Regions from separate parts of the Homo sapiens genome. Here region 2 is linked to region 1. The links come from fine-mapping of genetic effects on gene expression. A gene starts in region 1. The other region holds a variant in brackets. All regions are shown on one strand. Distances are between the middles of the regions.

The links. PIP is the estimated chance that this variant, and not a neighbour inherited with it, causes the effect. A credible set is the group of variants that fine-mapping cannot tell apart.
Region 2: its variant is the best candidate, but not a certain one, in a credible set for the expression of BEAN1-AS1 in whole blood (INTERVAL, PIP 0.75).

What each region holds. Positions count from the first base shown.
Region 1 is chr16:66,469,351-66,481,046 of GRCh38, reverse strand. BEAN1-AS1 (BEAN1 antisense RNA 1) reads left to right here and starts at 4,645. Exons shown (of 3, transcript NR_109960.1): 1 at 4,645-4,783; 2 at 5,369-5,445; 3 at 10,985-11,251. It overlaps BEAN1 (brain expressed associated with NEDD4 1), which reads right to left. Exons shown (of 5, transcript NM_001178020.3): 3 at 11,182-11,445; 4 at 3,337-3,487; 5 at 1-461. The coding sequence ends at 122. It overlaps LOC124903698, which reads left to right. Exons shown (of 5, transcript XM_047435016.1): 2 at 628-2,039; 3 at 2,930-3,103; 4 at 5,369-5,445; 5 at 10,985-11,696. RefSeq lists enhancers at 726-1,265, 2,347-2,887, 3,428-3,969 and a silencer at 4,475-4,574.
Region 2 is chr16:66,495,978-66,507,673 of GRCh38, reverse strand. No RefSeq gene overlaps it. Among named protein-coding and RNA genes, the nearest start is that of BEAN1-AS1, 25 kb to the right of the region's middle. The variant C/G (reference allele first, on the strand shown) is at 4,690.

The sequences.
Region 1 (11,696 bases):
TTTGGTCTATGTGTGTGTTATGAGTCACGTGTGCATCTCTGTGTGTGTGTGCACGCCTTTGTGTGCCTAAAGAATGTGGTTCAGCCTGTAGGGACCAGCAGGACCCGGCTGGCTGGGTCCCTCACACAATCCTCTCTGGGCCAGAGGCTGGGGCCCGGGTTGGGGTGGGTGAGCCCTGGGAGCCCCTTGGCCCTGGGTCTGGGCCCGGCAGTGGCAGCAGGCCTGATGGGGGGCCAGCCCCGCACACAGCCTCGTAGGGGGGAAGGGTGTCCATGGAGACCGTGTGAAGGCCACCTTGGGCCGGGGTCCTCTGCTCCTGCTGGTGTCGGCCAGGGCTGTGGCCGCTGCCTGAGTCGGAGGTGCCATCCAGCGTGGGGCAGGAATCAGTCAGCGAGTAGGGTGGTGGTGCGTCCGTGGGGACATACAGCTGAGTGGCCCCTGGCCCCACACACTCCTCGTAGCTACGAGAGAAGAGGCTCCCTCAGTGCCCCACCTAGGCCTTAGGGCTGGGTCTCTCCCAAAGGCCTGGGGGTCTATCTGCAGTGACAAGCTGTCCTGGCTGTGGACCAGGGTGGGCCTTGTCCACGCTGGCTCCAATGAAACCCTGCTACTTCCCTCCATCTCCAGAGGGGGACCTCAGAACCCTGGGACCTGGATTTGGGACCTGACTCAGCCCTCATATGCGGTGTGAGCTCAACGCATGAACACTGAGCTGCCTGGGTCTGCGGTGCCTCGAAACAGCAGTGGCCACTGTCTAGGGAGCATCTCCCCGCAGCGCACTGGGTGTGCAGAGGCTGGGTAGGACCAACCTCAGGCTACCAGACACCCTGGTCTCCAGCCACTCCAAAGTTCCCCTTCTCAGTTTAGGAAAGAGTCCCCTGGGCCCCTCTGAACCCACAGATGCAGAGCAAAAGAGCACCCATTGCCCCGAAAGGACTGGCAGCACCACCCCTGCTCGAGCCCCTGGGGCAGGGGTGAAGGTGGAAGGCCAAGGAGGAGGACACGGGCCATTCATCCAGGGCTGGAGGGGTCTCCTAGCAGGGAATGGTGGAGGCCCTGACCCCTTTCCCTCTTCGAGTACTGATGGGTGATCTGCCTGAGGGGGGCTGGCAGGAGAGGAACAAAAGCCCTCCAGAGAAGAGCTCCCCATGGGGAGGGGGCTGCTTGAGGGCCCTGAGGGCAGTTTGGACACAGCCACTCCTGTGGGCATGATCACAGGCACAGGGCCCTCCTGGCCACAAGCTCCACCTGTCCTTTCTCTTCCCACTGCCACTGTCTCTGGGGTCCTCAGGAGCTGAGGGCATAACTCCCTCCTTCTGGCTCCATGACCCCCCACTTCTCTGAGAGGAACCCGTCTTGATCCCTAAGGCCAGTCTCTGCCTCAGTGGCTACAGGTGAGGCCACAGAGACCCCAGGCTCAGCCAGACCCTTGTTGCCTGGGAGGTCTCGGAAGGTGTGTGCGTGTATGTGTTCGTGTGTGCATGTATGTGTGTGTGTGTGTTTGGAGGGGGAATCACCTCTGTCTTCGTAGTCGTGCCCCCACCTTCCCCACCCCTCTCCACCCCTGCCTCATGCCTACCCAGCCCTGTCCAGGCACTGGACCCAACCAGCCTTGGGGGTGCCTGACCACAATGGAGGCCTGCAGCTGGGGCATCCCCTCGTGCCTGAGGCCAACCCAACCCTCTGCTCTGACTCAGGGAGAAGTTGGCTCCCAGGCACCCCCAGGGCATCTGTGCACCTCCACCTCCATCAGAAGCAGCCCCACCTGTTCCTGTCCTTTAGATGAGCTGCACCGGGCAGAGGCAGCTGGGGATGGGGGAGGTGCCTGTGTCCTCAGGCTATGGCCTCAGGAACCAAGGGCTCAGGTCTAACCCTGAGCCACATCCCCAGATACCCACAGTATCTTCCTTCCCAGGAAAACCCAGGAAGCAGGGTTATTTGTCCTTATTTCATAAACAAAGAAATGGAGCCCCTGAGAGCCACAGTGACATGCCTGAGAGCATCAACCTGGGCGGCGTCCAGGATGGGCTCAAACCCAGGTGGGTATGACTGGAAAGCCAGGGCAGGGGAAGGGGAGAGGAGGTCAAACCCCACTGTGCCCTCTGTAGCGTGGCACACGCGTGCTCGCCTGCCTCTGGGCCTTTGCTCATCTGTGCCCTCTGCTGGTCACACCCTCCTCTGTATCTCTGAAGGTCCCAGTTCCTCCCAACCCAAGCACCACACACCCTTGACAAAGGCCGATTTCCTGTGTCAGCCCATCCTCCCTGATCCCCTCCCCTCGTCCTCCTCAGCATGATAGTTATCACCTGTGGCCTCGAAATAGTAACGACACCACTGGTGGGAAGAGCCAGTGCCTTGCTGAGCATTTTACTGGCACTTCTGTGTCATTTTCATGAGTATCCTGTGGGGCAGATATTATTATTATTATTTTATTATTATTTTTTTGAGACGAAGTCTCACTCTGTCGCTAAGGCTGGAGTGCAGTGGTGCGATCTCAGCTCACTACAACCTCCGCCTCCCGGGTTCAAGCGATTCTCCTGCCTCAGCCTCCCAAGTAGCTGGGACTACAGGCGCCCGCCACCACGCCCGGCGAATTTTTTGTATTTTTAGTAGAGATGGGGTTTCACCGTGTTAGCCAGGATGGTCTCGATCTCCTGACCTCGTGATCCCCCACCTCAGCCTCCCAAAGTGCTGGGATTACAGGCGTGAGCCCCCACGCCCGGCTGGGGCAGGTATTATTACATGGACATTTCCACAATGGAGAAGCAGGCACAGCGGGATTAAGTAACTTGCTCATGATCATACAAGAAACAATTTCCAGAGCGAGTGCACCTGGGGCCATCAGATGTCAGCATATGGGCTTGTCCCCTCTTTACCCCCCAGTCCCTGGTGTTATTTATAGAAACACAATACAGTTTTTTTTCCCTAGGGGGAAGTTGATCCCACAGCCACGGAAATAGCCAGATACTCCTCTGGCCTTCCCTCCCACCCTGAGGGAGACACCCGGAGGAGCAGATCCCCAGGGAATTCAGAACAGCTGCCACGGAACCTCCCCTGAAACTGCAGGGGCATTCCCGGCATGCCTACTCAACAGCCTGAGGAGGTGGGCTTGTCTCTTCCTTTCCTAGCACTTCCAGGTGATATCTGCTAAGTCACACTGCCTCAGTGGGACCTACTTGGTCAGGAGTGGGGAGGAGGTGGCCATGCCCACTGAGCAGATGTTTTCTGCATTTATACGACATGCAGAGGTGCCACTCTTTCCCATGATGGAGTTGGGGGGTCTTTGTGTCCAGGGCCCCATCCTCTGATGCCCCCTTCCCCATGAGGCCTCCTTACCCTGGTGGAGAATCTGGGTACAGCTCCCTGAGCACCGTGGCATCCACGTCCCCGTCAGAGCTGATGTCCAAGGGTGGGGGCCAGTCCTCTGAGGAGCTGCAGGCATAGCGCATCCTGCGGCTTGAGCGGCTGTATGTGTGCTCGTCCGACACTGCAGGGAACAGACCACCGGCCTGGGCCTCAGACCAGGATCCAGGGATGGTCCTTATGGGTCTGTAGGTCTACCTGGGGCCATGGAGGCTCTGATTCCCCACCTGACCACTCCTCTCCTCACCAAGCACAGCTGCCTTCATCCATCAGTGACAGCTCCAGAATGTGGGTGCCATTGTCGTGTTGGGCATGGGGATACAGAGAGGAAGCAGAGCTGGCCCTGTCCTGGCCAGCTCCCAAGGTGGTGGCAGCCTGCTTTGGGGATAACCTGGCACTAGGCAGTGTGTCATGAGCTTTGGTAGAGGTCCTACTGGGACTGTGGGAGTAAAGGCAGGCCTGACCAGTCTGGAAGTCAGGGAGGGCTTCCTGGAGGAGGGGCTGCTACAGCTGAGTCTTGTCTAGGATTTAACCAGGGGAAGAGGGGAAGGCCGGGAGGAGGGAACTGAATAGCTTTCCAAGGAGGGAGATAAGAAAGAAGAGTGTGGTGTGAACAGGGAGCTTTGAGCTGTGGAGTTGGGCTGGGCATGGAAAATGCGGTGGAGAGTAGCAAGGAATGAGGGCTTCAGAGAACTCTGGGATCAGCCCTCCCACACTCACTGCCCTTTAGGTATCTTGGGGAAAAAAAGGGGCTTCTATGATGAGTCTGGCAGCTCCCCACACTGCATTCTCCTCTGCATTTTTTACCATGCACCAGGACATCAAAGGCTCTGAAAAGTCCTGCAGCTAAAAAACACATTTAACTGTGCCTGTCCAGCATTCGACCTCAGAATCTTCCTTTCTTAGACCTAGTAACACTGTTTAGGAAATGCTGCTGGAGCACAATCCTCTCATTCCACAGCTGAGGTTCTGGGAGGCCCGGTGACTTGCTGGAGGACAACACACAGTGAGTGGTTGGGCCAGAGGGCAGCTGGATGTCTTGGCTCCTCCTTGCTAAGCTCTCTACAGCCCAGTTTCTGACATGTATCGTCCTGGATGGGAACAGTGGGAGCTGCAAAGGTGGCTGAGACACGAGGTCTCCTCAGTCCAGGGCTCCCAGGTGCCTCCTCCCCTCTGGGGGTGGGGCTTGGCATCAGGGGCGGAGCTATAACCTTTCTCTGCTGTGAGTGGCGCAGTTGCCATCCCCATTCTACAGACAAGGAAGCTGATACTCAGGGTCACATACGTGGTGAAGCATGGAGTTGTAATTTATGCACTCTGTATAACCCCAAAGACTGCTCTTCCCACTCCCCTAAACTCTTTTTCCCACTCTTCATATAATAGTGAGTGGAAGAATCTGGATATGAAACTCTATCTGCAGGTACAATTCCAATCCCAGGGTTATATACCGACACCGAGAAAGCTCTCAGAAGAAAATATTCCAAACACGTTGATGGTGGCCCTGTCCAGATGACAGAGGATCATGACCCTTATTTCTTTTTCTTTTTTTCTTTTCTTTCTTTTTTTTTTTTTTTGAGACGGAGTCTCTCACTGTCGCCCAGGCTGGAGTGCAGTGGCGCGATCTCAGCTCACTGCAAGCTCCGCCTCCGGGGTCCACGCCATTCTCCTGCCTCAGCCTCCCGAGTAGCTGGGACTACAGGCACCCGCCACCACGCCCGGCTCATTTTTTGTATTTTTAGTAGAGACCGGGTTTCACCGTGTTAGCCAGGATGGCCTCAATCTCCTGACCTCGTGATCTGCCCGCCTCGGCCTCCCAAAGTGCTGGGATTACAGGCGTGAGCCACCGCGCCTGGCCTATTTATTTCTTTATATTTCTTTTCTTATATTGTCTATATTTTTAAGGTTTTCTATAATGAACACACATTACTTTTCTACTAGGAGAAATGAAGTCAATAACATATGCTGTAAAAAAGGAGCTGAAATGCCATTTGTTTCTCCTGTTCAGGGCACCAGCTGAGAGACAGAATTTTTGGAAGAACTTAGGAAAGAAACTAAGAAAAGACAACAGCACACAGCAACAAGGTGAGACTGGAAGTTGAACCAGGGCTGCTGGGCTTGGGTGCCAGGTACCCCTTCGCCCCACCAGCCAGCATTGCCAGGGAAGGGTTTTTGGGTTCAGGGAGGGTTCCACCTGCAGGGCAGCAGGTGTGCCTGTCACACAGGGATCCCTGGGGAAAGTCAGGGCTGCTTCCTGGACCTGAGAGGAGTGACTGGGTGGGCAGCGCTGAGGGCTGTTAGAGCTGGAGCAAACTGCTATCTACCCTTTCTTCTTGGGCTGCTTTTTCTTGGACTTCCCAGAGGGGAGCATCTTGGGAAAACTGAGGCTGCCCTAAGGTGCTCAGACCCCAAACCTGAGACATCCAGCTGGGCAGAGCTCCTGAGAGACAGCTGGAAAGAAACCTGCACCCGCCACTCCCATTTGAACTTCCCAAATCCCTTCTTTTCCCTTCTCTCCTGACTTCCCTGTCGGCACAGATCCAAATAGTCCAGGACTCCGGAAGCCCTGCTTCCCACTTCACATAAGCTGAAACCTCCTGTTTACCCCGATACCTTGGTTCATTATTTAACATCACTCCAAGTTCACTGCCCCTTGACAGGCTCTGGGAGAGGGAGGAAGAGGAACTGGCACTCATGAGCACCTGCTGTGCTCAATCTCTATGATCTCATCTACCTCACACCCCACTGTGGGAGGAGAGCAGTGGTTACCCCTTCCACCAGATGAAGAGACCGAGAGTGAAGTCACTTGCTCTAAACCTGCAGAAGTGACAGGAGACAGAGTCAGCCACCAGATCTCTCTTAAAGCTCAAGATGGAACAGAATGACAGAATTTTCTTTTCTTTCCTTCTCTCTCCTTTCTTTCTTCTTTCTTTCTTTCTTTCTCTTTCCTTTCTTTTTCCTTTTTCTTTCTCTCCTTTTTTTCTCTCTCTTCTTTCTTCTCTTCTCTTTCTTCTTTCTTTCTCTCTTCTCTATTTCCCCTCCCTCCCTCCCTCCCTCCCTCCCTCCCTTCCTCCCTCCCTCTCTCCCTCCCTCCCTCCCTCCCTCTCTCCCTCCCTCTCTCCCTCCCTCTCTCCCTCCCTCTTTCTTCTTCCTCCCCCACCCCCATCTCATTCTCAAAGATTTGTGGCTCCTCTCTGTGTCTGGCTAGACTACAGAAAGGCTCTGTGGGCAGGCAGAGGGCCAACTCTGTCCTGAGGGTGATGGGGAGCCATTGGGAAGTGGTCACAGTCCTGTCACTTTGGTTGCCTTGTGGAGAATGCCTTGGAGGTGCCAGGCTGGTGGCTGGCAGGCAGGGACAGCTGACATTAGTGCAGTGGCCTGGGAGCAGGTTTTCTTGGAGAAAGAGATGATGAAAATAGCTCACATTTATTGAGCATGTATTTACCCATTAGCCAGGTGCTGTGCTAATTTAGTCCTCACAATAACTGTTTGAGGTGGATCCTCTTGCACCAGTTTTATAGATGACTCGCCTGAGGCAAAGAGAGTTTTGGCAGCTTTCCTGAGGATGCGCATAGGAAGTAGGAAATCAGGCCTCTGTGGACACCTGGAGCCTGAGGTGCCTGTGGGGCTTCACAGGGTGATGTCCAGGGGACTTCTGGGCATGCAGTTCTGGAGCTGACCTGCGGGCTGGAGCTAGGTAAGGGAGGATGATGGATGGTGTATGAGATGGAGCAGGGAGTGGGTGTAGAGAGAGGACCAGGACCAAGGTGTGGGATCTGAGGGACCTTGACTTATAAAGGGACAGAGGAGAGGAATCCGCAGCCAGAGGGGTGGGAGAGAGGCCAGGAGGGCTTGAGTCACCAGAGCTGGGGGGCTGTGAGTGTGTCTGACAGGTGGAAGGGGCCCAGTGCCAAAGGTTGGGGTTCACTGGTACACTGCCCCTCCCTCTTTATTTATTATTTATTATTTATTTATTTATTTATTTATTTAGAGACAGGGTCTTGCTCTGTTGCTCAGGCTGGAGTGCAATGGTGTGATCGTAGCTCACTGCAGCCTGAAACCCCTGAGCTCAAGCTATCCTCCCACCTTGGCCTCCCAAAGTGCTGGGATTATAGGTGTGAGGCACCGCGCCTGGTGGTGCCGCTTTCATGTTCTCCCACAGCTGCTCACAGTGCGTTTCCCTCTTCCCTGGCACCCTCCCAAGGCTCCCGGCAGCCCCTGCGCATCCTCCAGAAGGCTGGGGGAAGATATGGGGCAACAGCACCTCTGGGTTCCCTGCCGAGGCCCCAGGAGGTGTCAAAGCTGTAGCCGAGTGCAGAAGTGGGGCAGGGAGGCCGGAACCCCACAGGGGTCACCACCACCACAGGCTGCAGTGGGGAAGCCAAGGCCTGACCCCGCTTGGCAGAGCTGTGACCTCAGTCATCCCACCCACCCCAGGGACAGAGCCGAGGCCTCATTCATTGGCACCAGTCCCGAGGCCACCACAGGCTACAGAGGGGCTGGCCTGCCCCTAAGCCCATCTCTTTCCTCTGCGCCAAGGCCAACCCCTCAGCCCTCTCAGCTTGGGAACTACTGTGGGCGCCTAGCGTGCACTCCAAGATAAGTCATTGAACAAGTTGCTTCTTTGTGCCTCAGTTTCCCAGTCTTAATTTTTTTATTTTTTTAGAGACAGGGTCTCTCTCTGCTGTCACCCAGGCTGGCATGCAGTGGTGAGATCATAGCTCACTGAAGCCTTGACCTGGGCTCAAGGGACCCTCCCGACTCAGCCTCCTGAATAGCTGGGACTACAGGCATGTGCCATCACACCTGGATAATTTTTACATTTTTTTTGTAGAGATGGGGTCTTGCTGTGTTGCCCAGGCTGGTCTCAAACTCCTGGTCTGAAGTGATCCTCCCACCTTGGCCTCCCAAAGTGTTGAAATTACAGGTGTGAGCCATGGCACCCAGCCCAGTTTCCTATTCTTTATTTACTTTTTATTTTTTGAGACAGAGTCTCGTTCTGCCACCCAGGCTGGAGTGCAGTGGCATGATCTTGGCTCACTGTAACCTATGCCTCCCAGGTTCAAGCGATTCTTGTACCTCAGCCTCCTGAGTAGCTGGGATGAGAGGCATGTGCCACCATGCCCAGCTAATTTTTGTATTTTTAGTAGAGACAAGGTTTTGCCATGTTGGCCAGGCTGGTCTTGAACTCCTGACTTCAGATGATCCGTCCGCCTCAGCCTCCCAAAGTGCTAGGATTACAGGCATGAGCCACCGCACCTGACTAGTTTCCTAGTCTTTAAAGGGGGCAACTACATCTTTTGCCTTGAGGATAAAATACAGTGGCTCCTACCTTGCCCATGGAGCGCTTCCTCCAGGCCTGAGCCTGTCTGGGGACGAGTCACCTGTGGGCCCTGCTCTCATGGATGCAGCACAATCACCCCATGACCAAGACACTGAGGGAGGCATGGGTGCAATGCCGAGGAGGTACAGAGGAGGGGGACACCTATCCAGCTCTGCCTGGTAGGTGTGAGGAGAGGCCAGACAAGCTCCCATAAGGAGGCAGCCTTTGAGCGGGGCCTGGAAGGCTTTTTTTCGGTTCGAGAAGGCCAGGGAATGGCAGTCAGGGCAGAGGGAAGAGCCCAGGCAAAGGGCAGAGGCTGGAAGGAGCATGGACAGGGGACTGGAAAAGAGTGGGAGGAGCTGGGCAAGGGCCAGGCTGTGCGAGGGGCAGGCGGCAGACTGACCATCCTGGGTCTACCCGGCATCCTCCAGGGCTTGGGGACCTGGGTTTCTCTTGCAGGGGATGGGCATGCTCTGGGCAGGAGCCCTGGACTCTGCAGCCTCAGGTTGGTGATGCAGGGGTGGGACAGGCCCGTCCTGGCCTGGGAGTGCTTCTGGCTTGTCTCCTTGGGGAGTCCCTGGCTTCTGGGGAGACTTGCAGAGACTGGGTGGGCTGAGCTTTCCACATCTGTTTTATTCATGCTGAACTTTCTCTTTGATCCTCATTGTTGGACAGTGAGAACAGTCCACTAGCCTGCTGTGTCTTTCCTCAACTGTGGCCACTTGTCCGACTCATCCCGGGATGTCCCTCTGTGTCTTACACAAGGTCCAGCCTCCTGCTCTTCTGATTCTCCTAACAGCTTTCCCAGGGGAGCAACATCCAGGTCTGAGTGACACCCACTGTGGCCATGTACGTGTCTGCCGGACACTGCCTTGAGCCCACGGGGCGGCTCCCAGGGGCGTCTCCCCGACACCTCCAGCTCCCTTCCTGGGCAGTGCTGTGCAGCGGGGCAGCCTGTGGGTGCCAGGTCAGGCTGCCTGGGCTCAAGTGAGTTATCATCTCACTAGGACCATGGTGAGGATTTTGCAGTGAGATTATGTGCACAGACAGCGCCAGGCACCCAGCAAGCACTCCTTACTCACTGGCCATTACTACCCAGGCTCCTGTTCACCAGCTCCAGCTACCCATCAGTCCCCTCCTTAACCAGTTAACTCTGAAAAAGGACAGGAAATACCCCAAACCTGGCTAATCAGGGTGTGTCTGGGAGGGGGAGGAGGGGCCCCAAAGGCCAGGGCTGATCGGATCCAATTCAATCTATTTTAAAAATTTTTCCTATCTTTCTTTTCCCCAAGCTTTTCCTGCCTTGGAGAGGGAAACGCCTCAGGTCTGGCCATGGCTCTGGCTCCTAGGAGGTTGGCATCACTTCACCCTGCAGTGTGAAGGGTGCCTACTGCTGTTAAGCACCTCCAAGGTCCTGCTTTTCTTTTCCCTATCTGGTGGTGGCCTTGGACCTAGGCAGAGGCCCCTGAAGGCCTGTGGATGGTGATTTGGGAAGGAAGAGTCTGGCTTTTTCCTGCCATTGAAAATCGTCTGAGAATGGAATGCAATTGAATTTTTTCCTGCTGCCTTAGACAGCTGGCCCCTTCCAGGAGTGACACAGTCAGGTGGCTGCGTTCTGTAAAAAGTTCAGGCATTCTAGCCACATGCACAGATTTGGGACTGGTCACCCAAGAATTAGCCACCAACTCTGTTTAAGGGTGATCCCAACAACTGGGAGACCCTCAGATCAGTTCTATTTGCACTCTGCTGACTCTCACCAGGGATAGTTTTATTCACTCATCATTCATTCCATAAATTCACCCATTCACTTATTCATATATTCACCCCCATCAACCCATCCCACTGCCCACCTATTTATCTTTCCATTCCTCCACTCAACCCTCCCTTCCATCTCTCCACTCAGGCATAACACTCAATCCACCCATCTATCCATCCCTCCATTTTCTCATTCATCCATCCTTTCATCTACCCATTTATCCATTCATACTCTCCACCCATCCATCTCTCCACCCATCCACTGACTCTTCCACTCAACCTCCATCTATCCATCACCTCACTCCTCACCCATCCATTTTCCTACGAGTCCTTCTCCCTTCTCACCCATCCATTCCTCTCTTCATTCATCCACTCATCTCTCCACCCAACCATCCATCCATCCATCCATCCATCCATCCATCCATCCATCCATCCATCGAGACACCAGATGGACCAGCCCTTGGTGCAGCCTGGACCAACAGTGGCAGGGGAGGAGTGACACACTCTCCCTCTGACCTTCAGCCTCACTCTGAGTTTCTCTCTTAGCAGTCATCCGGGCCTCTCATGTCACCGAGAACATTATGGTGGGCGCCTGTGAGCTCTTCCTGACCACCCAAGACTTCTAGGATGCTTTCCCGACCACCCTGCTCCACCCAGGGCAGAGTTGCCAACTCCTTGATGCCTCCTGTGTTGCAATCCCAGTCAGATGAGGTCCCAGGGCCCCAGGGTGGGCGGCGGCTCACCGTAGCCGTGCTCGTACTCTCGGTGTCGACGCCGGCGGTGGTGATGATGGTGGTGGTGGTGGCGGTGGTGGCGGTGGCGGTGCCGCTGAAGCCGGGCCTGCCTGTCCCTGCGGATGCTGCCCACAATGATGGTGATGCAGGAGAGGATGATGACCACACCTATGACGGCACTCGCCACCAGCACGGGGGACACGAGCAGATGGCTGTGCTCCGAGCTCTCTGAGAATGTGGGGTAGAAGTAGCTGGTGCGGTTGTATCGTGCTACTGTGGACAGAGAGAGAGGACACTGAGCTGGAGCCCAGGCCTGCCACACCCCTTCCTTCTCTGCCCGTGCTGCCCTGTGAGCTGTTGCTCCCTAAATAAATGGAGGAGGGTCTGGGCTCAGGCCCACGGACTCTATCCTGGCTGCTCCTGGGGGAGAAGGAGAGCAGCACCTCACTCCGCTGCCTGCAGGAGCCTCTGGTAGTGAGGGCTGACTGTCCCTCCTCTCCTCTGAAGCCTCTGCCCACAAGCTG
Region 2 (11,696 bases), 27 kb before region 1:
GGCAAGAGAATCACTTGAACCCAGGAGTTGGAGGCTGCAGTGAGCCGAGACTGCGCCATTGCACTCCAGTCTGGGCAGCAAGAATGAAACTCCATCTCGAAAAATAAAAAGAAAACCGATAGAAGAAAATACACAGATGCAAAGGAAATATAGGAAGGACGCCCAGAGACAAAATAGGTTGGTGGGTAAAGGCTAGAAAGAAGGGAAGGATGAGACTGGGCTACAGGGATGAGAAGGGAATGACACTTCTTTGAAATATCTTTTTATTTTATTTATTTATTTTTTTGAGACAGGGTCTCGCCCTGTCACCCAGGCTGGAGTGCAGTGGTGTGATCTTGGCTCACTGCAAGCTCCACCTCCCAGGCTCAAGTGATTCTCGTGCCTCAGCCTCCTGAGTAGCTGGGATTACAGGTGTGTGCCACTACGCCTGGCTAATAGTAGAGACAGGGTTTCCCCAGTTTGGCCTGGCTGCTCTCAAGTGATATGCCCACCTTGGTCTCCCAAAGTACTGGGATTAGTGAACCGCTGCACCCAGCCTGAAATGTCTTTTTCTATAACTGACTGTTACATACTGTGATGTAGCAATGTTTCACATACCCTTCACATACTGCCAAAATAAATAAGAGCAACCAGGATGTAGGGAAAACAGAAAACAAAATTACAGATGAACTCCACCATACCGCAGGTGAGTAACATAACCATACTGAAGGGGGCAGGAAAGAACAGAACTAACAAATAACTGTGGAAAACAGTATCTTTACTGGATATGGTAAGAGTAAAGGCAAAAATTTCTGTACATAAAAGTTGTAGTATAGTTATTAAAAATGTTTCTCGACCATGCGTGGTGGCTCACACCTGTAATCCCAGCACTTTGGGAGGCCAGGATGGGCGGATCACCTGAGGTCAGGAGTTAGAGACCAGCCTGGCCAACATGGTGAAACCCTGTCTCTACTAAAAATACAAAAATTAGCCGGGCGTGGTGGTGCACGCCTGTAATCCCAGCTATGTCGGAAGGCTGAGAATTGCTTGAACCCAGGAGGCAGAGGTTGCAATGGGCAAAAAAAAATGTTTCTCACAGGAGTATAGGTTAGTGATTCTGAAACTATGTATACTAAAGTTGAACAAACAAGTAAATAGATTGTAGACTATGAGGGCTGGATTTCTTACTGTTAGTGAAAGAGGTTACAAATGATAGGGGTCTAGAATAAACCCCGTGGTGCTGGGTTAGAATAGGAGGTGTCAGTCTAAACTCATGATTTTAAAATTTTAGGCTCTGGTGGCTCACTCTTGTAATCCCAGCACTTTGGGAGGCCAAGGCAGGTGAATAGCTTGAGCCCAGGAGTTAGAGATCAGCCTGGGCAATGTGGCAAAACCCCATCTCTACAAAAAATACAAAAATTAGCCAGGTGTGATGGTGTGCGCCTGTAGTCCCAGCTACTTGGGACGCTGAGATGTGAGAATAGATCGAGTCCAGGGGTTCAAGGCTGAAGAGAGCTGTGATTGTACCACTGCACTCCAGCCTGGGTAACAAAGGAAGACCCTGTCTCTAAATAAATAATAAATAAAATTATATATAGATGGATACAGAAATATAGATGTGTGTGTGTGTGTGTGTGTGTGTTTATGTGTGCTTAGTATACATACTTATGTTTCCTAGCTCTGTCCTGAGTGTGTCTAGAGGCAATGGCACCCAGTAACAGTGAGCACACCCGGTACCCAGTTCTTGGTCTCCAAACATCATTCTCCTGCAAAAGGAACCAGGTCTCCTAGGAGATGTGGTTGATTCCAGGGATGCCACAGGGGAATGACAGGATGACCCTGGAATATCTTGTGGTGCTAGAAAGAAAGTGCAGGGATGTGGGGGGATGATGGAGCCATGTCAAGGGAATTGAGGAGCTTGCCTGAAGTTCCTAACGGCCAAAGCTGGAACAGTTTGAGGAACAAAATAAATTATGTTAGTATTGGATTCTAACACATAGACTAAAATAAATATCCACGAATCCATGCTGATATAAACAGTTGAAGAAATAAGTAAACAGGGAAGAAAGGGAGTGCTTCCTTATGGTAGATTTCCAGTTAATACACACAAAAGGCAAGAGGGAAACAGAGACTTGCCATTACATAAACACCACAGTTAAAAAATCACAGGCCAGGTGCGGTGGCTCACGCCTGTAATCCCAGCACTTTGGGAGGCCGAGGCAGGCGGATCACAAGGTCAGGAGATCGAAACCATCCTGGCTAACACGGTGAAACCCTGTCTCTACTAAAAATACAAAAAATTAGCTGGGCATGGTGGCGGGCGCCTGTAGTCCCAGCTACTCTGGAGGCTGAGGCAGGAAAATGGCGTGAACACAGGAGGCGGAGCTTGCAGTCAGCCGAGATCGTGCCACTGCACTCCAGCCTAGGTGACAGAGGGAGACTCCGTCTAGGGAAAAAAAAAAAAAAAAAAAAAAAAAAAAAATATATATATATATATATATAAAATCACAGACAAGATTTACCTGTTGATACTAAAATTAGTGGACAGAAGTTTGAGGAAAAACAAGATTTGCATAGTTTCTATTTCCCCTAATATACTTATCAAGTAAAAAGGGAAAGAAATTAACTAATTTGACAGTGGAGATGGAAACCCCATAGAAACCAGCTTAATAAGTGATTAAGGTAATAAGACGTAGTGACATCATGAAGCCTTTACAAAGATGCACTGAGGACAGCATCTTTTTTTTTTTTTTTTTTTTTTTTGAGACAGGGTCTCACTCTGTCACCCAGGCTGGAATGCAGTGGCGCAATCACAGCTCACTGCAGCCTCGACCTCCTGGGCTCAGGTGATCCTCCTCAGCTTCCCGGGGAGCTGGGACTACAGGTGTGTGCCACCAGGCTGGCTAATTTTTTTTTTTTTTTTTTTTTTTTTTTTTGAGACGGAGTCTCGCTCTGTCACCCAGGCTGGAGTGCAGTGGCGGGATCTCGGCTCACTGCAAGCTCCGCCTCCCGGGTTCACGCCATTCTCCTGCCTCAGCCTCCCAAGTAGCTGGGACTACAGGCGCCCGCCACTACGCCCGGCTAATTTTTTTGTATTTTTAGTAGAGACGGGGTTTCACCGTTTTAGCCGGGATGGTCTCGATCTCCTGACCTCGTGATCCGCCCGCCTCGGCCTCCCAAAGTGCTGGGATTACAGGCGTGAGCCACCGCGCCCGGCCATTTTTTGTATTTTTTGTAGAATAGGGCTTTTGTCATGTTGCCCAGGCTGGACTTGAACTCCTGAGCTCAAGTGATCTGCCTGCCTTGGCCTCTGAAAGTGCTGGGATTACAGTGTGAGCCATCATGCCTGGCAGCATCATTTGTTTTTTTGGTGTGGTATCCTTGCCAGAAATGCATACTTGACTCCAGTATTAAGAAAGCACCAGACAAACCCAAATGGAGGGACATTCAACAAAATAACTGATTGGAAAAAACTCTTTAAAAGCATCAAGATCGTGTTAGACAAGGAAAAAACAAGAACTATTACAGACTGGAGGAGACAAAGGAAAATATACAAATGCAATGTGGGATCCTGGATGGGCTCCTGGAATAGAGAAAGGATTTTAATAGAACACTAGGAAACTTAAATAATATGTGTAGTATCGTTAATAACATTGTATCAATATTAATTTCCTGTTCTTGATCATTATATTATGGTTACATAAGATGTCAACTTCAGTGCAATGTGGGATCCTGTATATGCTCCTGGAATAGAGAAAGGATATTAATGGAACACTGGGGAAACTTAAATAAGGTTTGTAGTATAGTTAAGAACATTGTATCAATATTAATTTCCTGTTCTTGATCATTATACTATGGTTACGTAAGATGTCAACTTTAGGAGAAGCAGGGCCAGGAGTGGAAAGGAGTTCTTTGTACTATTTTGCAACTTTTCTCTCCATCTAAAATTAGTTAGAATAACGCCCTTCATGGGAAATAAAGGCAGAGCACAACACTGTAAATATTACAATCCCAAATGTTTAATATATGCGTATATAGAAAAAAGACTGGGAGGAATTGCAGGAATGTGGTGACATTGGGTATCGCTGAATGGTGGAAATTATGGTAAGGTTTGCTTTCGTTTTCATATTCATCTGTACTTTCTAAGTTTTCTACTCATTTGATGGTTTAATATGGTGGATCCTTGGAAATAACGGTGAATGAGACAAGATGAAGTTTATCTCTCATGGAGCTTATCTTCTAATGGGGGGAAATGGAAAATGAATACATGAATTAAAATCTTTGTGCAGAAAATTAAGCTGATGTGATAGATGGTCAGAGGGGGCCTCTCTGAGAAGGTGACATTTAAGGGGAGATGTGAATAACAAGGAAGAGAACATGGCAGGGTAGGGTAGGGAGACAGAGCAGAGGGAACAGTCTGTGCAGAGGCTGGGAATAGGGCCAGGCTCAGCATGTTCCAGAACCTTGCAGAAGCCAGGGTGGCTCTGGCTACAGCGGACAATGGGGAAGGGACCTGAGATGAGTTCAGAGGGAAAGTGAGGGGCTGAGCCTGGGACTTGATATGGCCTCGGGCACCCCTGGAGGGAACTGAACACATGAGAATCATGATCAAATGTAGGTGGTTTTTTTTTGTTTTGTTTTGTTTTTTTTAACATTTTCTATTTTATTTTATTTTTTAAATATATAGAGACGGGGTCTTTCTGTGTTGCC[C/G]AGGCTGGTCCCAAACTCCTGGACTCAAGCAGTCCTCCCACCTCAGCTTTCCAAAGTGCTGGAATTACAGGCATGAGCCACCACGCACAGCCCTAATGTAGGTTTAACGGAATCCTCCAGCATTCGGGTGGAGCACAGGCTGCAGAAGGCTGGCAGCCTCCAGGGACGTGAGTGAGAGAGGATGGTGAATTTGGTTACTGTGGAAGGAGGGGGGAAGGGGTTGGATTCAGACTCTGTTGTGAAAGAGAGGAGCTAGGAATTGGATGAAGGATGTGATAGAGAGAGAGAGCGGGGGGAGGAGGAAAGAGAGAGGAGAGAGAGATATATGTTGGTCAAGGGTGATGTCTGCATTGGATTGGAGTGAGTGAGTGGATGGTGGACTCATTTACCCAGATGGGGAATGCGGGAGCGGCAGGCTTAGTGGAGAGAGCAAAAGTTCTGTTTTGGTTTGGAATAAGCATGCTTATTATGTTAATGGTCAGAAAAGAATGAATAAAAAAAAAATAATTAGCTCGCCTTTCCTGCCCCTGGAATCCTTGGCCTAAGTTGCTCTCCCAGGTTCCTTTGCTGCAGGTCAGGTGCCCTGGGGGATATGCCTTGGAGTGGCTGTCATGGTTCCAAGCTGACGCAACCTCTTGCCTCATCCTCCTGAGATTGCTGACCTGCTCTGCCTCCAGATCAGCCTGTTCTTTTTTTTTTCCATTTATTTATTTTAAGAGACAGGGTCTCACTCTGTCACCCAGGCTGGAGTGCAGTGGTGTAATCACGGCTCACTGCAGCCTTGAGCTCCTGGGCTCAATCAGTCCTCCCATCTCAGCCTCCTGAGTAGCTGGGACTACATGGCTGGCTAATTTTAATTTTTTTTTTAAATTATACTTTAAGTTTTAGGGTACATGTGCACAACGTGCAGGTTAGTTACATATGTATACATATGCCATCTTGGTGTCCTGCACCCATTAACTCGTCATTTAACATTAGGTATATCTCCCAATGCTATCCTTCCCCCGTCCCCCCACCCCACAACAGGCCCCAGTGTGTGATGTTCCCGTTCCTGTGTCCATGTGTTCTCATTGTTCAGTTCCCACCTATGAGTGAGAACATGTGGTGTTTGGTTTTTTGTCCTTGCGATAGTTTGCTGAGAATGATGGTTTCCGGCTTCATCCATGTCCCTACAAAGGACATGAACTCGTCATTTTTTATGGCTGCATAGTGTTCCATGGTGTGTATGTGCCACATTTTCTTAATCCAGTCTATCATTGTTGGACATTTGGCTTGGTTCCAAGTCTTTGCTATTGTGAATAATGCTGCAATAAACATACATGTGCATGTGTCTTTATAGCAGCATGATTTATAATCCTTTGGGTATATATCCAGTAATGGGATTGCTGGGTCAAATGGTATTTCTAGTTCTAGATCCCTGAGGAATCGCCACACTGACTACCACAGCGGTTGAACTTGTTTACAGTCCCACCAACAGTGTAAAAGTGTTCCTATTTCTCCACATCCTCTCCAGCACCTGTTGTTTCCTGACTTTTTAATGATCACCATTCTAACTGGTGTGAGATGGTATCTCATTGTGGTTTTGATTTGCATCTCTCTGATGGCCAGTGATGATGAGCATTTTTTTCATGTGTCTTTTGGCTGCATAAATGTCTTCTTTCGAGAAGTGTCTATTATATCCTTTGCCCACTTTTTGATGGGGTTGTTTGTTTTTTTTCTTGTAAATTTGTTTGAGTTCATTGTAGATTCTGGATATTAGCCCTTTGTCAGATAAGTAGATTGCAAAAATTTTCTCCCATTCTGTAGGTTGTCTGTTCACTCTGATGGTAGTTTCTTTTGCTGTGCAGAAGCTCTTTAGTTTAATGAGATCCCGTTTGTCAATTTTGGCTTTGGTTGCCATTGCTTTTGGTGTTTTAGACATGAAGTCCTTGCCCATGCCTATGTCCTGAATGGTATTGCCTAGGTTTTCTTCTAGTGTTTTTATGGTTTTAGGTCTAACATTTAAGTCTTTAATCCATCTTGAATTAATTTTTGTATAAGGTGTAAGGAAGGGATCCAGTTTCAGCTTTCTACATATGGCTAGCCAGTTTTCCCAGCACCATTTATTAAATAGGGAATCCTTTCCCCATTTCCTGTTTTTATCAGGTTTGTCAAAGATCAGATGGTTATAGATATGCGGCAATATTTCTGAGGGCTCTGCTCTGTTCCGTTGGTCTATATCTCTGTTTTGGTACCAGTACCATGCTGTTTTGGTTACTGTAGCCTTGTAGTATAGTTTGAAGTCAGGTAGCGTGATGCCTCCAGCTTTGTTCTTTTGGCTTAGGATTGACTTGGCAATGTGGGCTCTTTTTTGGTTCCATATGAACTTTAAAGTAGTTTTTTCCAATTCTGTGAAGAAAGTCATTGGTAGCTTGATGGGGATGGCATTGAATCTATAAATTACCTTGGGCAGTATGGCCATTTTCATGATATTGATTCTTCCTACCCATGAGCATGGAATGTTCTTCCATTTGTTTTATCCTCTTTTATTTCATTGAGCAGTGGTTTGTAGTTCTCCTTGAAGAAGTCCTTCACGTCCCTTGTAAGTTGGATTCCTAGGTATTTTATTCTCTTTGAAGCAATTGTGAATGGGAGTTCACTCATGATTTGGCTCTCTGTCTATTATTGGTGTATAAGAATGCTTGTGATTTTTGCACATTGATTTTGTATCCTGAGACTTTGCATCCTGAGACTTTGCTGAAGTTGCCTATCAGCCTAAGGAGATTTTGGGCTGAGACAATGGGGTTTTCTACAAATACAATCATGTCATCTGCAAACAGGAACAATTTGACTTCCTCTTTTCCTAATTGAATACCCTTTATTTCCTTCTCCTGCCTGATTGCCCTGGCCAGAGCTTCCAACACTATGTTGAATAGGAGTGGTGAGAGAGGGCATCCCTGTCTTGTGCCAGTTTTCAAAGGGAATGCTTCCAGTTTTTGCCCATTCAGTATGATATTGGCTGTGGGTTTGTCATAGATAGCTCTTATTATTTTGAGATATGTCCCATCAATACCTAATTTATTGAGAGTTTTTAGCATGAAGAGTTGTTGAATTTTGTCAAAGGCCTTTTCTGCATCTATTGAGATAATCATATGGTTTTTGTCTTTGGTTCTGTTTATATGCTGGATTACGTTTATTGATTTGTGTATGTTGAACCAACCTTGCATCCCAGGGATGAAGCCCACTTGATCGTGGCGGATAAGCTTTTTGATGTGCTGCTGGATTCAGTTTGCCAGTATTTTATTGAGGATTTTTGCATCGATGTTCATCAGGGATATTGGCCTAAAATTCTCTTTTTTTGTTGTGTCTCTGCCAGGCTTTGGTATCAGGATGATGCTGGCCTCACAAAATGAGTTAGGGAGGATTCCCTCTTTTTCTATTGATTGGAATAGTTTCAGAAGGAATGGTACCAGCTCCTCCTTGTACCTCTGGTAGAATTCGGCTGTGAATCCATCTGGTCCTTGACTTTTTTTGGTTGGTAAACTATTAATTATTGCCTCAATTTCAGAGCCTATTATTGGTCTATTCAGGGATTCAACTTCTTCCTGGTTTAGTCTTGGGATGGTGTATGTGTCGAGGAATTTATCCATTTCTTCTAGATTTTCTAGTTTATTTGCGTAGAGGTGTTTATAGTATTCTCTGATGGTAGTTTGTATTTCTGTGGGATCGGTGGTGATAATCCCCTTTATCATTTTTTGTTGCATCTATTTGATTCTTCTCTCTTTTCTTCTTTATTAATCTTGCTAGCAGTCTATGAATTTTGTTGTTCTTTTCAAAAATCTAGCTCCTGGATTCATTGATTTTTTTGAAAGGTTTTTTGTGTCTCTATCTCCTTCAGTTCTGCTGTGATCTTAGTTATTTCTTGCCTTCTGCTAGCTTTTGAATGTGTTTGCTCTTGCTTCTCTAGTTCTTTTAATTGTGATGTTAGGGTGTCAATTTTAGATCTTTCCTGCTTTCTCTTGTGGGCATTTAGTGCTATAAATTTCCCCCTACAGACTGCTTTGAATGTGTCCCAGAGATTCTGGTATGTTGTGTCTTTGTTCTCGTTGGTTTCAAAGAACATCTTTATTTCTGCCTTCATTTCGTTGTGTACCCAGCAGTCATTCAGGAGCAGGTTGTTCAGTTTCCATGTAGTTGAGCGGTTTTGAGTTAGTTTCTTAATGCTGAGTTCTAGTTTGATTGCACTGTGGTCTGAGAGACAGTTTGTTATCATTTCTGTTCTTTTACATTTGCTGAGGAGTGCTTTACTTCCAAGTATGTGGTCAATTTTGGAATAGGTGCGGTGTGGTGCTGCAAAGAATTATATTCTGTTGATTTGGGGTGGAGAGTTCTGTAGATGTCTATTAGGTCCGCTTGGTGCAGAGCTGAGTTCAATTCCTGGATATCCTTGTTAACTTTCTGTTTCGTTGATCTGTCTAATGTTGACAGTGGGTTGTTAAAGTCTCCCATTATTATTGTGTGGGAGTCTAAGTCTCTTTGTAGGTCTCTAAGGACTTGCTTTATGAATCTGGGTGCTCCTGTATTGGGTGCATATATATTTAGGATAGTTAGCTCTTCTTGTTGAATTGATCCCTTTACCATTATGTAGTGGTCTTCTTTGTCTCTTTTGATCTTTGTTGGTTTAAAGTCTGTTTTATCAGAGACTAGGATTGCAACCCCTGCCTTTTTTTGTTTTCCATTTGCTTGGTAGATCTTCCTCCATCCCTTTATTTTGAGCCTATGTGTGTCTCTGCACGTGAGATGGGTTTCCTGAATACAGCACACTGATGGGTCTTGACTCTTTATCCAATTTGCCAGTCTGTGTCTTTTAATTGGAGCATTTAGCCCATTTACATTATTGTTATGTGTGAATTTGATCCTGTCATTATGATGTTAGCTGGTTATTTTGCTCATTAGTTGATGCAGTTTCTTCCTAGCCTCAGTGGTCTTTACAGTTTGGCATGTTTTTGCAGTGGCTGGTACCAGTTGTTCCTTTCCATGTTTAGTGCTTCGTTCAGGAGCTCTTTTAGGGCAGGCCTGGTGGTGAGAAAATCTCTCAGCATTTGCTTGTCTGTAAAGTATTTCATTTCTCCTTCACTTATGAAGCTTAGTTTGGCTGGATATGAAATTCTGGGTTGAAAATTCTTTCCTTTAAGAATGTTGAATATCGGCCCCCACTCTCTTCTGGCTTGTAGAGTTTCTGCCGAGAGATCAGCTGTTAGTCTGATGGGCTTCCCTTTGTGGGTAACCCGACCTTTCTCTCTGGCTGCCTTTAACATTTTTTCCTTCATTTCAACTTTGGTGAATCTGACAATTATGTGTCTTGGAGTTGCTCTTCTCAAGGAGTATCTTTGTGGCATTCTCTGTATTTCCTGAATATGAATGTTGGCCTGCCTTGCTAGGTTGGGGAAGTTCTCCTGGGTAATATCCTGCAGAGTGTTTTCCAACTTGGTTCCATTCTCCCCGTCACTTTCAGGTACACCAATCAGATGTAGATTTGGTCTTTTCACATAGTCCCATATTTCTTGGAGGCTGTGTTCTTTTTATTATTTTTTCTCTAAACTTCTCGCTTCATTTCATTCATTTGATCTTCCATCACTGATACCCTTTCTTCCAGTTGATCGAATTGGCTACTGAGGCTTGTGCATTCGTCACGTAGTTCTCATGCCTTGGTTTTCAGCTCCATCAGGTCCTTTAAGGACTTCTCTGCATTGATTATTCTAGTTAGCCATTCGTCTAATTTTTTTTCAAGGTTTTTAACTTCTTTGCCATGGGTTTGGACTTCCTCCTTTAGCCTGGAGTAGTTTGATCATCTGAAGCCTTCTTCTCTCAACTCGTCAAAGTCATTCTCCGTCCAGCTTTGTTCTGTTGCTGGTGAGGAGCTGTGTTCCTTTGGAGGAGGAGAGGCACTCTGATTTTTAGAGTTTCCAGTTTTTCTGCTCTGTTTTTTCCCCATCTTTGTAGTTTTATCTACCTTTGGTCTTTGATGATGGTGACGTACAGATGGGGTTTTGGTGTGGATGTCCTTTCTGTTTGTTAGTTTTCCTTCTAACAGTCAGGACCCTCAGCTGCAGGTCTGTTGGAGTTTGCCGGAGGTCCACTCCAGACCCTGTTTGCCTGGGTATCAGCAGCAGAGGCTGTAGAACAGCGGATTTTGGTGAACAGCAAATGTTGCTGCCTGATCGTTCCTCTGGAAGTTTTGTCTCAGAGGAGTACCCAGCTGTGTGAGGTGTCAGTCTGCCCCTACTGGGGGATGCCTCCCAGTTAGGCTACTCAGGGGTCAGGGACCCACTTGAGGAGGCAGTCTGTCCATTCTCAGATCTCCAGCTGCATGCTGGGAGAACCACTACTCTCTTCAAAGCTGTCAGACAGGGACATTTAAGTCTGCAGAGGATTCTGCTGCCTTTTGTTTGGCTGTGCCCTGTCCCCAGAGGTGGAGTCTACAGAGGCAGGCAGGCCTCCTTGAGCTGCAGTGGGCTTCACCCAGTTCGAACTTCCTGGCTGCTTTGTTTACCTACTCAAGCCTTGGCAGTGGCGGGCGCCTCTCCACCAGCCTTGCTGCCACCTTGCAGTTTGATCTCAGACTGCTGTGCTAGCAATGAGCGAGGCTCCGTGGGCGTAGGACCCTCTGAGCCATGCGCGGGATATAATCTCCTGGTGTGCCATTTGCTAAGACCATTGGAAAAGCGCAGTATTAGGGTGGGAGTGACCCAATTTTCCAGGTGCCGTCTGTCACCCCTTTCTTTGACTAGGAAAGGGAATTCCCTGACCCCTTGCGCTTCCTGGGTGAGGCGATGCCTCACCCTGCTTTGGCTCATGCTTGGTGCGCTGCACCCACTGTCCTGCACCCACTTTCCAACACTCCCCAGTGAGATGAACCCGGTACCTCAGTTGGAAATGCAGAAATCACCCGTCTTCTGCGTCGCTCATGCTGGGAGCTGTAGACTGGAGCTGTTCCTATTCGGCCATCTTGGCTCCACCTCCTAATT